2 linked regions of the Homo sapiens genome follow. The protein of the gene in region 2 interacts with the protein of the main gene of each other region in a pairwise test. Each region holds a gene or a part of one and is shown on either strand. Other genes may lie near its edges.

Region 1 (7,616 bases), on a different chromosome or scaffold from region 2:
TTTAAGTGTATAGGAAAGGGCTTCAAACTAACCAGGGAGAGAGCTATCATCCTAGCTCACCATGAAGCAATCAATCTTCCATCTGCTCCAACCCTTATCAAGTTCCTTATTTGTCGAAACGGCATGTCATACAACTTGCCTGACTCCCTCAGTAGTTAAGAGGGCTCCCTAGTAAAATCCTCTGCAAGGCTAACATGCAAGATGCTAAATGAGCAAGAAAGCTCAGGGCTTATACACCCTGAGGGTTTGTACACCTACCAAGAACTAGAAGCTTTTAGACCTCCAGTGCTTACACTTATGCCAAAACATCCTACATTGAAATAAAGAGGACAAAGTCGTTTATTTAAAATGCATAAAATTATTTAAAATGCTGTTTTTAGGATAAACAGCATCTCAGTAGACTAACCAACCTTTAAAAGCCAGCAGAATAGATATAGAATATTCTCTTGTTGTGAAAATACCTTGTAAATGTACAATCACAGGTGGGTAAAGAACAAATTGTGAGCCATCTGAGTCTCTAGCAGTCTAATACTCCACTAACTGACCAAGTAGATCATCAATGAGCTATCTTTTTTTAAAGAGATCTATGAGTGCTCTTTTCAATATGGTTCAGATCACAGAGGAACCTGGTTTTGAACACTGTTCTCTTTGCTGGGAAGAAGAGATCTTAAAAAGGGATCCTGCAAAGGCCTGTTCCAGAAAAGCACACAGGATTAGGATTTGACTGTGCCTGCAGCGATATTGAAAACTAAAACTTTAGCCAAATTCCCAGAGATACTTCTAGTGTATCCCCTGATGTACTGAACAGTGCTGGGCAGATAGTAAGTGTTCATTAAATATGTGTTGGCTGCTGATTGTTAATCTGGGCAAGATGTTCACAGACATCTGAATATTTAGAAGACATTTGGATACGCAGCTGAAGTTTACAGTTTTCACGTGGATGTTCTTTTAAAAAGCTGAAGAAGGGAGATGATTGCCAAATGTATTATCTCTATCTCGAGTTGCTAAGGCTCACAAAGTCTCCTATTTCCAGCAGAGAGAAAAATGCTTAAAACTAGATTCATCAGCAACCTGAAGAAAGCCAAAAGAAGCAATCTTAAAGATCTTTTTAGTATCTTGATCATTCAGTAGAATACTACAGTGCTAAAGACTCCAGATGCCACACAGCTTGTTTCTTTGCCCATATGTAATGTACATTTACAATCACATGTACAAAGGCATATTATGCCAAGAGAAAAAGCAATCCACTGCATATACATGCTATATCATAAGTATGATTGTGTTAACCACTTCCTCCCTAATTTCCTTATGTGAAGTACTGTTTTCTTGGTCAATAAGCCCCATAATTTACAAAATATACAGATCCTATTCAGTTGAAAGAAACATGCATATGTGTTCACCAAACAAAATATTTTCTCAATATTCTATTTCTTATTGTATATAAACAAAAATAAACTAAGCAAAAAATAAAACTCTCCTAATACTTTAAGAATTTGTTTTTTTAATTTTGTATGTCTTGCAAATTAAAAGATGATTAATTTATACATTATATGTCTAAGAAGTAGGAGAATTAATGAGATTAGCACAATACTGGATAAATATTATTCATAAAAAATGTATTAAATACATAAAACATAATAATTATTTAGAAATTTCTCAGTCCTTTTTATAATTTTGAAAGCTTCCTGGTATTACACAACTGATGGATGGGGTTATAGCATGTGTTGCTTCTTAATAATAGCTCTTCATAATAAGATCATGAGATATCTATACGTAGAGTATTTTTAAATCATCATTCTTTTTATTCTAAACATTTTTAAAATGTTAAATATTTTAAACTAGTTACTATGTTTAAAATAAATTCTACAAATGCTTAACTACATTATTTAGCTAAAATTTCAACCGACGAAGTTTTTCTTTAAGTGTACAAGTGGTCAACCTCATTCTTTACAGACTTCCAGTTTTTATTTTTCTCTATTGTTATTTTTCCTTGTCTTAACACCATCTGCTATTTTTCCAGATGACCAAAACCTTTATAAAGTCAGATGAGGTTTGTTTTATGCTTCAGGGGACCCTCTTTGAAGAGTGAGTTATTTTGTTAGATGACTTAAGCTCACTCTATTCCATAAAGTGCATTTGTGTTTATCAGAAATATTTGATCTTGAGAGTGGCCCTCCATCCTGTGGACCCTTTCAAGATCAAAGAATCACTAAATCTGGGGGCTAGAAACCATTCCAAGAGGTTATCTAGTGCAGACCTTTGTAATCGCTGCCTCGCAGAGGAGAGAGCACCTAAGCCATCCTTAACAGATTACCTGTCAAGTTTCTAAAGTTTTCCAGAAAAGGAGCCAACACAATCTTCCATTGCAGCTTTCTTTTTGCGATCTCCTAAGGCAACGAGTAAAATGCCACACTTCTTTCTGTGCCTTCCTGCACACTGGTTTCAGTTGCTACTTGGAGCTATCCTTCAGTCTCTACCCATGACAATACCTGTGTGGTGCCTTGTCAAGAATCCACCTGCCTTTTCCCTCTTACTCTTGAGGAGCAAAGCCACCTCACCTCCCAAGCTGGCTAAAAGCTCTCAGCATGCCCCGGGAGGGGAGAGGTAAGGGGTCACTCTTTACCTTTGCAGATACCAAACTCTTCACCAAAAGGATCCTCCCCATTAGAAGGCTGACACCTCAGCCCCGGGCCACACTTCATGCCATCCATGCCTGAGACTGTGCGGTAGCAAGTTTCTCCCCGCCCTGCAGCGCACACTCGGCAGCAGCCACAGTCGTCGAGCACTGTCCTCTTGCAGCGCGGGCTGCTTTTGCACTCACTGCTGTCACAGTGTTGAGGGCAGTCCACCGCATAATTATTGCTCCAGGCGGCCACCAGGTGTGCAGGCACGAGGAGCGTGGTCAGCAGCAAGACGCTCTTCATGTTTCCCAGCTGCCTCCGGCTCGGCTCTCCAGTCGTGGTCTTTGCTGGTGGGAAGCAGCCGTCCAAACTGGTAGCTGAGCCTCTGCCTACACGTTTATGAGTTTTATACACTGGGTTGCCCGCATGCTTTCCCGTCATCAATTTCCTCAACCCAGCAGCAGCGCTGTCCTCCTGCCAGGCTCTCTTGTTTTGGTTTATGAAATCCAGGATGAAGGCTGGATTAACACGCTGCTGCCATCCAGGAATTGAAAAGCCCAAGCTGATGTCATCTGTTATGTTTAGATGGTTGTTTTGCATGAGGACTGAAAAACTCACTCACATCCGTCTCAAGGGCTCAAGGACGTCTGTGAAGGAGGGATAAAGAAGGTTGCACACCCTCCTTCAGGACGGGAATTGTTCTGACCCTGGCATATCACTTGAGGTGTAGCTTTGTCTCAGAGCCTCTGTAGTCAGGAGGAAAATGATATCAACATGAATCATCAGGACCGAAGAAGCTTCTTCAAAAAAAATAATAAACATTTGGTATTTCCCCTCAACAAATAGCTATGAGATCATTTGAAAGAAGAAAGGGTTATATTGTGTCTTTTCAATACTTAGAAGAAAGAAAATATTTTGATAGGGCTATTTTTTAAGACCCTCTCTTCCTTCCTCTCACCCCTCTCCTCAAATGTTATTTCTAAAGCAATTCATGTTACATATATCTAAGCCTATTGTGGATATAGCTGTGCTTCCAGTACAATGTGGAACTGCCTCTGAGAATTTCTTTTAAAATCAATACAAAAAGCCACAAGAGAGGTAAGATCCTTTCGGCACTGCTTCTGGGTTACTCAATTCTGGAAAAACTTATCAGTTGGACTTCTGATCCAAAACTTCCTCAGGGGAAGGCTCATCCATCACTAAGTCTGCTTGTCCAATGACGGAGTCCACCCAGAGCCCTTCCCCTCACCTCCTGGCATCTATCAGAGCCCTCACTAAAAACTGCCAAGCGCGGCAGCCAGCCCAAGGCAACAAGTGGCTCAGCAGGAAAATCAGAACACAGCCCCCAAGAAACAAGTCACAGGGAAGGGAAACATTACCCCTCAGGAAACAAGGTCTGCATGCTAAGAGGGTTACCGTGCCTAGGTCCCTCTGGGAAAACAGAGTAGCCCTCTTAAAATATCAACTGTGCCAGGGTCTTATTAAGTAAGGTTAAAGAGGAGAGAGGGGAGTTCTTACACCAACCACATGCCGAATTCCATGCCCCCACCTCACTTGTCAAAAGAGATATAGACTCACTGTCACTTAGTAAATAACAACCCAGTAAAGTGGGTAATTCTTGGTCTGTCACAAATGAGCTGTAAGAAATTCACAGGACTTCTCTTGGCCTCAGCTTCCTCTTTTGAGAATTGATGGTGTTAGGCTACCTGACCTCTAAAATTCTTGTTTCCCATAGAAGATGAGGCAGAGCGGGCATTGGATGTAACTTGAAGATCGGCTTTTGCAAATGCAATTTTAGGGGGACACAGGGAGTAAATTCAGAATACAGAGAATTGAGGCAGTAGGAAATGAAAGCAAGAGTTTTAGCTTTCAAATTTTCCAAATTTTTCATGACAATCCAATTTGAAATACTCTATCTCCCCAGAAGCACTTACTTAGCAGGTGGCACACTCTGATGTTTTCAGTAATGGGTAATATTTGTTGAGTTAATAGCTTAAACACTTTACATGCATTAACTCATTTGCACCTCATCACAATATTATGAAGTGGCTGCTATTATCATGCTTATTTTTTAAAAGAAGAAACTGAGTAAGAAAGAGGTTAATTTGCCTAAGGTCCCTATATTGAAGGGATGGATGTTAGTCTAATGTCAGAGCCACATATTCTATTGCCTATTACAATACATAATTGTGCTTTCATGGCCAATAGTTCCAATGGCCTAGGTCGCAATTTAGGCTGACCCTAGAAAATGTCCCTTGTTACTGAACACCACTTTCTGAGGAGTAGTTAACTGGAATAGTGGTTAATAATAATATCTAACCTTTACAGAGATCTGACTGTGTGCCAGATGCCATGCTAAGCAGTTTATGTAGATTACCACATTTAACTTTCAAAACAACCTCAAGAGCTAGGTGCTATTCTTATCCCCATCTTAGATATGAGAAAACTGAGGCCTAGAGAGGGTAAGTAACTTGTCCATCATCACACAGTTAGCAAATGGTGAAGCCAGGACTCCAGCCCTGAGACCAACAAGCTCTGGAGACTGGATTAAGGATTGTAAAATCAAATACATACAGGTGCCAAACAGGTGCCCAAGGTGGGTGACATGGTAAGCTATACTAGATGTAATACAGAAGGAATGGAGTGGATTTCGTCCTCCTGAATAGCACATAAAGACATGAAACTCTTCCACTATGGAAGATAAAGGGAAACCAAATTGATAATACCTTCAGTAAATGACAACTAAACAAATGTAAGTTGAGAGTACCAAATCCAAATAGTAAACCAAACTACAATGCACAGGTAAGTGCAGAAAATATGCCCAATAGAGTTCACCAGTGGTGGAACTATCTCAATACACAGTGCCTAACAACTCATTTTAGGGGAACCTTCAATCCCTCCAAGACCCAACAAAAACCATTTGTCCCAACACAATCCCTGTAAGATTTTTATCTAGTGATTTCTGTCTTCCCCAGAGCCTTGAGCCCAGATCAATGAATTCCATTAGGAAAGTTAGCAATGACCACAAAGGGTTAGGAAATGGGAGCACGAGCAACCAAGGAGCCAACTCTAAGCTGCATTAAAAAGCAATAAGATGATGGCAGAGCTGTTGATAGTGAGTGCATGAGGTCCACCCATTTCACTTGCTTTGTGCTGGGGACTGGAACATCTCTCATCTTGCTCTGCCTGTATATCAGTTGTCAAGTCAGAGTGAGAAAGGGCAAGAGGAATTGCACAAGATTTTCACAACTCCTAAAATGTAAGTTCAAACTAAGGTGGGTCAAACCATACCATCTGTGGATCCAAATGTTGCAGCATATGGTGTTTTGCAATGGGGGCAGAGAAATGATAAAACCAAATATCTATTTAACCCAGTATACCCTGTATACTTAAAATGCCACTTTGATTTTTTTCTTAAAGCTGGTATTGTGTTAGGAAAATAAGCTTTGGTAATGTGCATTAATATTTTGTGTTTATTTTGTACATTATGATTGCTTCTAACCAAATAACAAGGATTTTTTTCTGGATAGGTAAAAGTAGTCCAGTGGAAAGGCTCTGGGCAGATCCCAGACTCTCAGAAGGTGGTTTATGGTAAAGCGAATTATACCGTACTTACTGTGCCTTCCTAACAAACCAGCTCTACCAGAGAAGTCTGGTTTAAATTGAATTACAAAGGCAGACTTGAGGGCATAAAGTTTGGAGGAGCAAGTGGAGACATTTACATGCAGATTTTAGGTGATTTGGTTTTTAGGTTAGTTTTGGTTGTGGTTTTTGATACCATCTGAAAGTCTTCCTGCTTTGACACTAGCTGATAGCAATTTTGCATGTGCCTACTGCAAGGTCTAGCCCACAGCAGGAGCTTAATACTTAATAAACACATAAAAGGAACCAACTGTTTCCCAGAATCATCTTCAGATGATAGTAAGTTAAACGGGCATCAATGTGTTCCCTTTCTTTCTCTTTCCACCAGGAGAAGCAAAGTGAGGCCCAGATTCTAGGGCAGGCTAGGTTAAGCTGCAGAATGTGTTTACTTGTGGGAATGAGGTAGAGGTGTCAAGAAACAGCACATCCAATCCAAGAGACATCGAGGATTGGATGGAGCCTGAGCAAAGACTGTAGTCCCATTGCGGCAGTTCCTTCACAGCTAACCAAATTTGTCCTGTTGACCTTGGGCTTGGCAATATCACATCCACCCTGGAAAGTTCATGGGAGCCCCTCATAGCCAATAGAACTTGGTGAAATACTTCTGCCAAACTGGCTGGGATTCACGGCAGTCACAGGTCAGCTGTCAAAGCCCAGGGCCTGAGGAATCTTCCCAGAGCCTCCTGCCCTGAGTACAGTTTGCCTAGAAACAGCTTTACCACTGCCAAGATATGTGATCTTAGGCAAGTCACATGCCACATACCTTAGACCTCTCCTTTCTCCTCAGTACCTCAATAATAAGAGGGCCAAACAGGGCAACAGATATGAAACCATCGTGACTATTATTATCAAGCGTCTGATTTCTGAAGATTGGCTTCATTCTTTAAATGTGATCTTATGTCTTGGAGCAAATATTTTCCCAAAAGAAATCTCTCTAATTCTTTAAGTTTCTATTTTTAATAAAGACAATTTTAATAGCAAAGTGGAATTGAATGTACCAATATATGATTTACAGGCAATTTTCAAAAACTACACCTGCTTAGAAGAGCAAAGTGAAATGCATCTGCTTTAATTAGGCTTCTTGCCCATATGGGGGCTCTCTGATTTGTCTTGATGAGCAGGTCAACCTCGTAGGCAGCTGGGGTGCCATCACACAGAGCTCTGCAGGAGCCCTGAGTGTGAGGGTGTGTGAGTGACTGCAAGAAGATAAGGACAGGACACCCGCAGTGTCTGCTACAAACCCAGAATGTCTGGGCACCTCTCAGAGAACTTGGCACTATATCCAGATTTTTACTCCAATGGAGCCTCTGAGGAAGCAGCCACAGAGTCAGGTTGTTTTTTAACCCTGTTCAA
Region 2 (7,022 bases):
GCTCCTTAGGTGGAAAGGAGGCACATACGCTTTGCAGCATCCCTTACAGGAAGGCTAGAGTTCATTCACGTAGACATCTCTCTTCCCCACTAGACTGGAGTCCCATGACAGCAAGGATCCTGTGCGAATCAACTCCACACAGCTGCAGCTACACAGGGGTTTGGCACATGCAGGGTGGCCAAGGAGCCTGTGGTGCACTCTCCCTCCATCTCCCAGCCATGTGGCCTTTGCCAGCTCTCCCCCTCTCCTGAGGGGCACAAATGAAAGTGACTTTGTGGTGTTCTAAGGGGAAATGCTCCATGGCTCTCAACAAGGGTGAGATAATACTCTTAGCTTTATTTCTGATACTGCTCTTTGACATCTGTTGGCTATTTTTCAAACTTCAGCACACCACATCAGTATCTTCAAGGGAAACACTCATGGTGACGTAACAAACCCCTTCCTTCACTGTTGCATCTTCACCAATGGCTCAGAGCCTAGGTAATGTTTTTCTCAATGCATTATCCAGCTTCAACACTGCTATGGGACTTTGGGCAAATCATCTAAGCTCTGTTATGTCTCGGTTTTCTCATCTCTAAAGTGAAGATAACAGAACTTTATACTTCATAGGGTTGAGTGTTTAGCCCACCAAGTGATCAATAAAGGTTGGCTGTCTTTAGGTTAATGTCCCATAATTATCCCAATTTTGGTAAGGAAGAATTCTCCTAAGAAATCTTTTCAAAGGCATATTTAAGATGTAATAAATCATGTTACTGACTTGCAAACATATTTATCCTTTCAAAGAAGGCTTCCCTTAGTCAGTTCCAGTTTTAATGTGACATTTTTTTTTCATAAAGACCAAAGATGAAATTCTTTGGGATTCACAGCATAAAAATGGTAAAGGGATAATCCCTTTGTATTGTGTATAATACCAAATGCTATACATTCAAATGTAAAATTCTAAGTTCCTGACATACTAATCCATGAATCTTAATTGTTACAATTAATACACATAGCATAAGACACTTTCTAAAACTTTCATGGTCTCATGCTCTTTAAAAGGTTTAAATGAAAGAGTGCCGCAGACATGCAGGCTACTCCATCTTCTGGACCCTTGCTTTTCCCTCATTATACATTCAAGTATTTAAGAAGATGCAGATGGAATCTCTTTCTTACCTCTCCATCAGCCACGGCAGAATAATTCACTTGGGCAACGGTGACCGTGGTTGGCAATTCTGAAGCATCAGCCAATGTGGCTACTGTTGCCCCCGTACCAACCTAAAGAAAAATATGGAAAGTGGTTAAGTGTCAGTGGATGGATCCTTCCACCTCTTTACTCAGAAGCTGAGACTCATTTAATCCCAAATTCAGCACAGATAACAAAGAATATGCCTTATGATGTGAAATCTAAAATCATAGCTCACTAAAATCATAGTTCAGAGACTATCACGAGTTTCAGAATTTTACTTCAACCAAATAAGTCCATATGAGAAAAGCTATCACATCGCCACATCCATGCCCAGTGTTGGTCAACCAACTTTCTATTCTCACCTCAATCTGAACTTTAGAGGTTCCCAATCAACAAATTGTGTTTTACCTCAGAAGAGGTCATTCAGAAGGAATATTCCCTGATCACTGAGAGTGAAACTGTAAAACAGAAGTCATTTTAAGGCCAGACATGGTGGCCCACATCTGTAATCCCAGCATTTTAGGAGGCCGAGGCAGGAGGATCACTTGAGCTCAGGAGTTTGAGACCAGCCTGGGCAACATAGCAAGACCTCATCTCTACTTAAAAAAAAAAAAAAAATTCAGCCAGGCCTGGTGGCATACACCTGTAGTCCCAGCTACTCGGGAGGCTGAGGAGGGAGAATCACTTGAGCCCGGGAGGTTGAGGCTGCAGTGAGCTGTGATGACAGAGAGAGATCTTGTCTCAAAAAAAAAAAGAGCCCTTTAAAAGTGCTTTGTTTTGGAAATGTCCAGGAAGCTACTCATAGCTCTGTATTTAGCAAATGCAAAGAATTTAAACTATTCTTCAGAAATCAATTTCAGGTAGGAAGATCTTGGGGAGCTATATAAAGTTCATACAAGAGTTCGCACAAAGGAAACTTTCCCTAGTCTGAGGTGAGGTGCCCACTGATCCATCTCAGAAGCCACAGTCTGGTAGCCCTCAGGTTTACTCACCTGGATAAGTGAGACAGTGCCATCAGGGTTACTAAAAGTCTGGACTACAGTCTGTGATGGTACAAGATGAGCTATACTATGTGTGGCTGTGGCCTGTGTTTGCGTTTGCTGATCTTCAAAGGCATACAAAAGGTCTTCCCGCCCATGCTGTTTATAACAGTTTTTAACTATGGTCCGTAGTGCCTGGGTCCATGAAACCTGTCACCAAATGACCGGAAAAGCACATTAAGCCACAAAGAACTTTGGTTATTTAGTCCCAATATGCAATAAGCAGCTACTTCTTTATCAAATCAAACCAAACCAAACCTCTTATTAGACTCTCCTAGGATTACCTCCCACAGACTGGTTCTGGTAGAAAGAAGCTGTGTACGAAGTATCAAAGAGGGCTTCTCATTGGTTTCTTCTTGATCAAAGTCTAGTTTACACCCTATTCCAACCTGAGGCCAAACTCTTAAACTTCTTGCAAAGAAAGATTATTCTGATCAAGAATGGCATATTAAGATTCTCAGTAAACTTCCAAGCTAAATGAAAAATAAATACGTGGCCAGGCATGGTGGCTCACGCCTGTAATCCCAGCACTTTGGGAGGCTGAGGAGGGCGGATGGCCTGAGGTCGGGAGTTCGAGACCAGCCTGACCAGCATGGAGAAACCCCATCTCTACTGAAAATACAAAATTAGCTGGGCATGGTGGTGCATGCCTGTAATCCCAACTACTCGGGAGGCTGAGACAGAAGAATTGCTTGAACCCGGGAGGCAGAGGTTGCGGCGAGCCGAGGTCACGTCATTGCACTCCAGCCTGGGCAACAAGAGTGAGACTCTGTCTCAAAAAAAAAAAAAAAAAAGAAAGAAAAGAAAGAAAAAGAAAAATAAATACGCAAAAAAAGTAAGGAATGGTAGGTAGTTTAGTCTTTCTTGTAAAAGTTTTGTTATTAGCAGACTCAGCTGGCAGACTTCATATCCCTCTAATTCCATATTTACATTTTCAACAATGATTTTTAGTAACCAGAAATAAAAGCATTTCTAAGTGTTCAAAGTGATTAATACTTTTACTTCAAGTTTCTTTGACTTTCCCAAGCACTTCATAAAATTAAAACTGCTCCAAAAGGCAACCCCGAAGACACATTTTAAATTCATCAACTCAACCCAGTCTTCTCTTTATAGTATAGTGATGGAGCGACAAATGGAAAAGGCTATAAATCAAAGAATATCAGTCTTTGGAGGGACAGGCTTAACTATTACACAAAGACTTTCTAGCACAAGATGTAGAAATGACAAAAATTGAGGTGGTTAATTTAGGATGGAAAAGCAACCAGGCAACTCAGTCAGAGGAACTCTCACCCTCTGCTTTTGCTCTTCTGTGCGGACATCACTCCGGACATTTGCCCAGGGGATATCTTCAGGCCACCAGATGGGCTTGCAGCTTTCTTTCCCCCAGCCTGGTTTTCCCCGACCTGTAGAGTACTTGAGCATCTCTGGGATAAATGCCCGAAGCTGGGCCTGGAAGAGAACAGTGTGGTCATCAATACTCATGAAAGACATCTGGGGTGTGTTTATGACTCCTTAAATTCTAACCTTATAAAACAGAGAGGTTTCCAGGAAGGTCCCAGAGAATTCTAAGATGTGACTGATGAAAACCCACTGTTTTCCATAGGTTCCTATATCTCCATGGGTGGTTGAGAATTATAAATATGTTGATAAAGTGCACCTTAGGCTGCATTTTGTAGACTTGTTCCTCTAAGAGTAAGAATATCTACCCCTAAGTTTAATTTCTGCTTCCCAAGATATTACTGGTACTATAGCTTATTTCCCTTCTACAGTTTTCATGCATGTAAGGTGCCAAACTCGGGGTGTTTTCAACACTGTTCTGGAAGTAGGAATCCATGCAATTAGATAAGAGAGAAATAAGAGGCGAGCTGATAAAATCATTATTATTTATAGATGAAGTCACCTTATATCTAGAGAATTCCAAAGAGATCAAATGAAAAACTACTACAAACAATAATGAGAATTCAATAAGGTGGCTGATTATAAAATATAGGAAAACAAACAGGCCTTTAACTTAATAAAAAGGGAAAATAACCCTAAAACTCTTCTAGAAATTTTCCAGTAAGCTAGGCCACTGTCCATGAGTCTGACATATAGACATAGTAAAGCATGTGTGAATTTAAATGCATTATGGACTTCATTCAGATTTATTTTACAAATCAAATCCAGACCAAACAGGTTTTAAACCACAAAGACAACTGCCATTCTTATTTCCTGGCATAGTAACCACACTCTGTGTGTGTTGGGGGAGGGTCTACTTTGTGAATATTCTTAATCGCTGATAATGATTTCTGGCAAGAAAAGCAGTTTATCAATTTATGATCTATTCCTCCTTCCCAGACCTACTGTCTTCCTTTTAACCTGGTGGTCTATAGCACTCCAGATATAAGTAGCATCCTGCAACTAAGGATGCACCCATACTGCCCCTGCAGCTGAAAACCAAAAAGAGGCCACTTTTAGCAATGAATCAGACTCGGGGGTGTGGATTTGTAGTTACAAAGTAAAACAAGAAAAAACAGAAATGAGAATAATTAAGTATTAATGAGAGAATGAGTACAGCAACACTTTAATATTAAAGATTTCTATAAATATCAGGTATTCTTATCATTCTTATAATAAATATTAGATATTATTTTACGAGAAGATGATACAAATTGTTACATAATAGGGAACCATGAACCCAATCAGTAATGTTGACCTAATAAAGTTCTGGTTGACGGTAGCCATGCTGTTAATTCCTGTGCCAAGCCTGCCACTTCACCTCTCTAAGTCCCCCAATGCCCCAACAGTCTCCTGCCTACAGGATATGATATAATACACTCCATATATATTTGGCTCTGGCATCAAGCAGCAGGCTGATAGAAACGTATCCATTTAAAAACCCATCAGCTGGCTCATGCGGTCATTACTTCAGTTATTTTAAGAAAGTACATCTCAAAGTCATTTTTCCCTTTATTCTAATTTCTTGGGAGTGTGTCTTTTTCTAGGCTCAAATACATAGAGCAAGAAAGGGCTTAATCTTCACACACAATATTTTATACTTCTTCATGTTAAAAAAAATGGCTTTCTCAGAGGTATAGATTAAATTGATATAGACTTTCATAAACTCCCTTTTCTTTGAATACCATTAACAGTTTCCAAAAAGGAGAATTCTTTATATTCATACCTAGGAGAGTCTGGAGAAAATGAAATGAGAAGGCTAAATAATTCTAAATTAACAAAATCCTAAAGTGGGTTGGGTGCAGTGGCTCATGCCTATAATCCCTGCACCTTGGGAGGCTCAGGCAGGCAGAATGCTTGAGACCAGGAGTTTGAGACCAGCTTGGGCAACACAGTGGGACTCTGTCTCTACCAAAAATACAAAACTCAGTCGGTTACAGTGGCACGTGCCTGTAGTCCCAGCTACTAGAGAGGCTGAGGCAGGAGGATCGCTTGAGCTCAGGAGGTCAAGGATGCAGTGAGCCATGATGGTGCCACTTCACTCCAGCCTGGGTGACAGAGTGAGACCTTGTCTCAAAACAAAACAAAACAAAACAAAACAAAAATCCTAAAGCGGGTGACAGAGCAAGACCCTGTCTTAAACCAAACAAACAAAACAGAAATCCTAAAGTGATCAGAAAGCACTCACTGTGGAGAATACTAGACTGACAGAGTCTGCTCAGATCCACCTGGAACCCTCTATATTCCCTAATTCTGGTGATCGCTTCACTTCTGACGCCTCACCCTATTTGCACCAATAGTTCCTTATGCTCCTCAGTTCTGGGTCACGTTGGCACCTGGACGTGGATATCTTTCACCCTCAAGTCTTCCTTCGGCTCTCCCACCAGGCCTTCCAACTGAGTTCCAATAACTCAATGTTACTTGAAAGGTGGGCTCAGCATCAGCCTCTTCACTTAAACTCCTACCCTACCCTCTCTCCAATCTACTTGTCTTCTCAACTTTTTTATCTTAGCAAGTAGAAAACCACCCTTTCCCCGGCCACTCAAACTAAAAATGTCAAAGTTATCTTTACTTTTCTCCTTCAACACTTACCTAGTCACACATTGCAAGTCCAGTTCTTTTGTTTTCTTTGAAACGTCTCTGGTGTCTATCCCTTCTTCTCCGGCCCCACCTTTATTCTAATTTTTTGGCCCAAGGCTAGTGTATCCTTCTAGTTGGCTTTCTTGGGAAACTCCAAGTTCTCCCTTCATTCCCTCTTCCCACATATCCTTGCCTGAGAGGTTTTCCTAAATGTTACCTACATAGCTCCAATGCTCAAAACACCTCCAAATGTCTTTTAACTATGGCAACTAAACTAGATCCTTCTGCCCAGCTTTTCAGACCCACCACAATCTGGCCTCACACTACAGTCAGTTCCCATTAATTCCCACCACTCAGCCTTGGTCCTCCATCAGACAAATCTCTGCACTGTCTTAAGAGCTGCTAAGCCCATTCCCGCTTCTTTGCCTTTGTTCTGTCCCCTGGCTGGACTATTTTCCATGCTACTATTCTAATGCCGCCACTCATTCTTTAGTGCCCAGAAAAGTCCTACATTCTTTGTGGAACATATACTAACTATTCATTCATTCTCTCTCTCTCTCTCTCTCACTCTCGGATCTTGCTCTGTGGCCCAGGCTGGAGTGCAGTGGCATGATCACAGTTCAATGCAGCCTCAACCTCCAGGGCTCAAGGGATCCTCCTGTTTCAGCCTTCAGTAGTTGGGACTAAAGGCGCATGCCACCATGCCCAGCTATTTTTTTTCTTTACTTTTCCTTCTTTTCTTTTTTTTCTTTTTGTAGAGAAGGGGTCTCCCTACATTGCCCAGGCCAATCTCCAAC

The links. The genes of interacting proteins can lie anywhere in the genome.
Region 1: the proteins of NRF1 (region 2) and ESM1 interact in binary tests that used the Homo sapiens proteins (3 or more experiments, as listed by UniProt).

Annotation. Positions count from the first base shown.
Region 1 is NC_000005.10:54,982,594-54,990,209, forward strand, and holds the start of ESM1 (endothelial cell-specific molecule 1 isoform a precursor), read right to left. Parts: upstream 3,001-7,616; 5' UTR 2,925-3,000; coding exon 2,624-2,924; intron 1-2,623. UniProt on the Homo sapiens protein: Involved in angiogenesis; promotes angiogenic sprouting. May have potent implications in lung endothelial cell-leukocyte interactions.
Region 2 is NC_000007.14:129,705,710-129,712,731, reverse strand, and holds part of NRF1 (nuclear respiratory factor 1), read right to left. Parts: intron 3,658-7,022; coding exon 3,499-3,657; intron 2,359-3,498; coding exon 2,161-2,358; intron 1,258-2,160; coding exon 1,156-1,257; intron 1-1,155. UniProt on the Homo sapiens protein: Transcription factor that activates the expression of the EIF2S1 (EIF2-alpha) gene. Links the transcriptional modulation of key metabolic genes to cellular growth and development.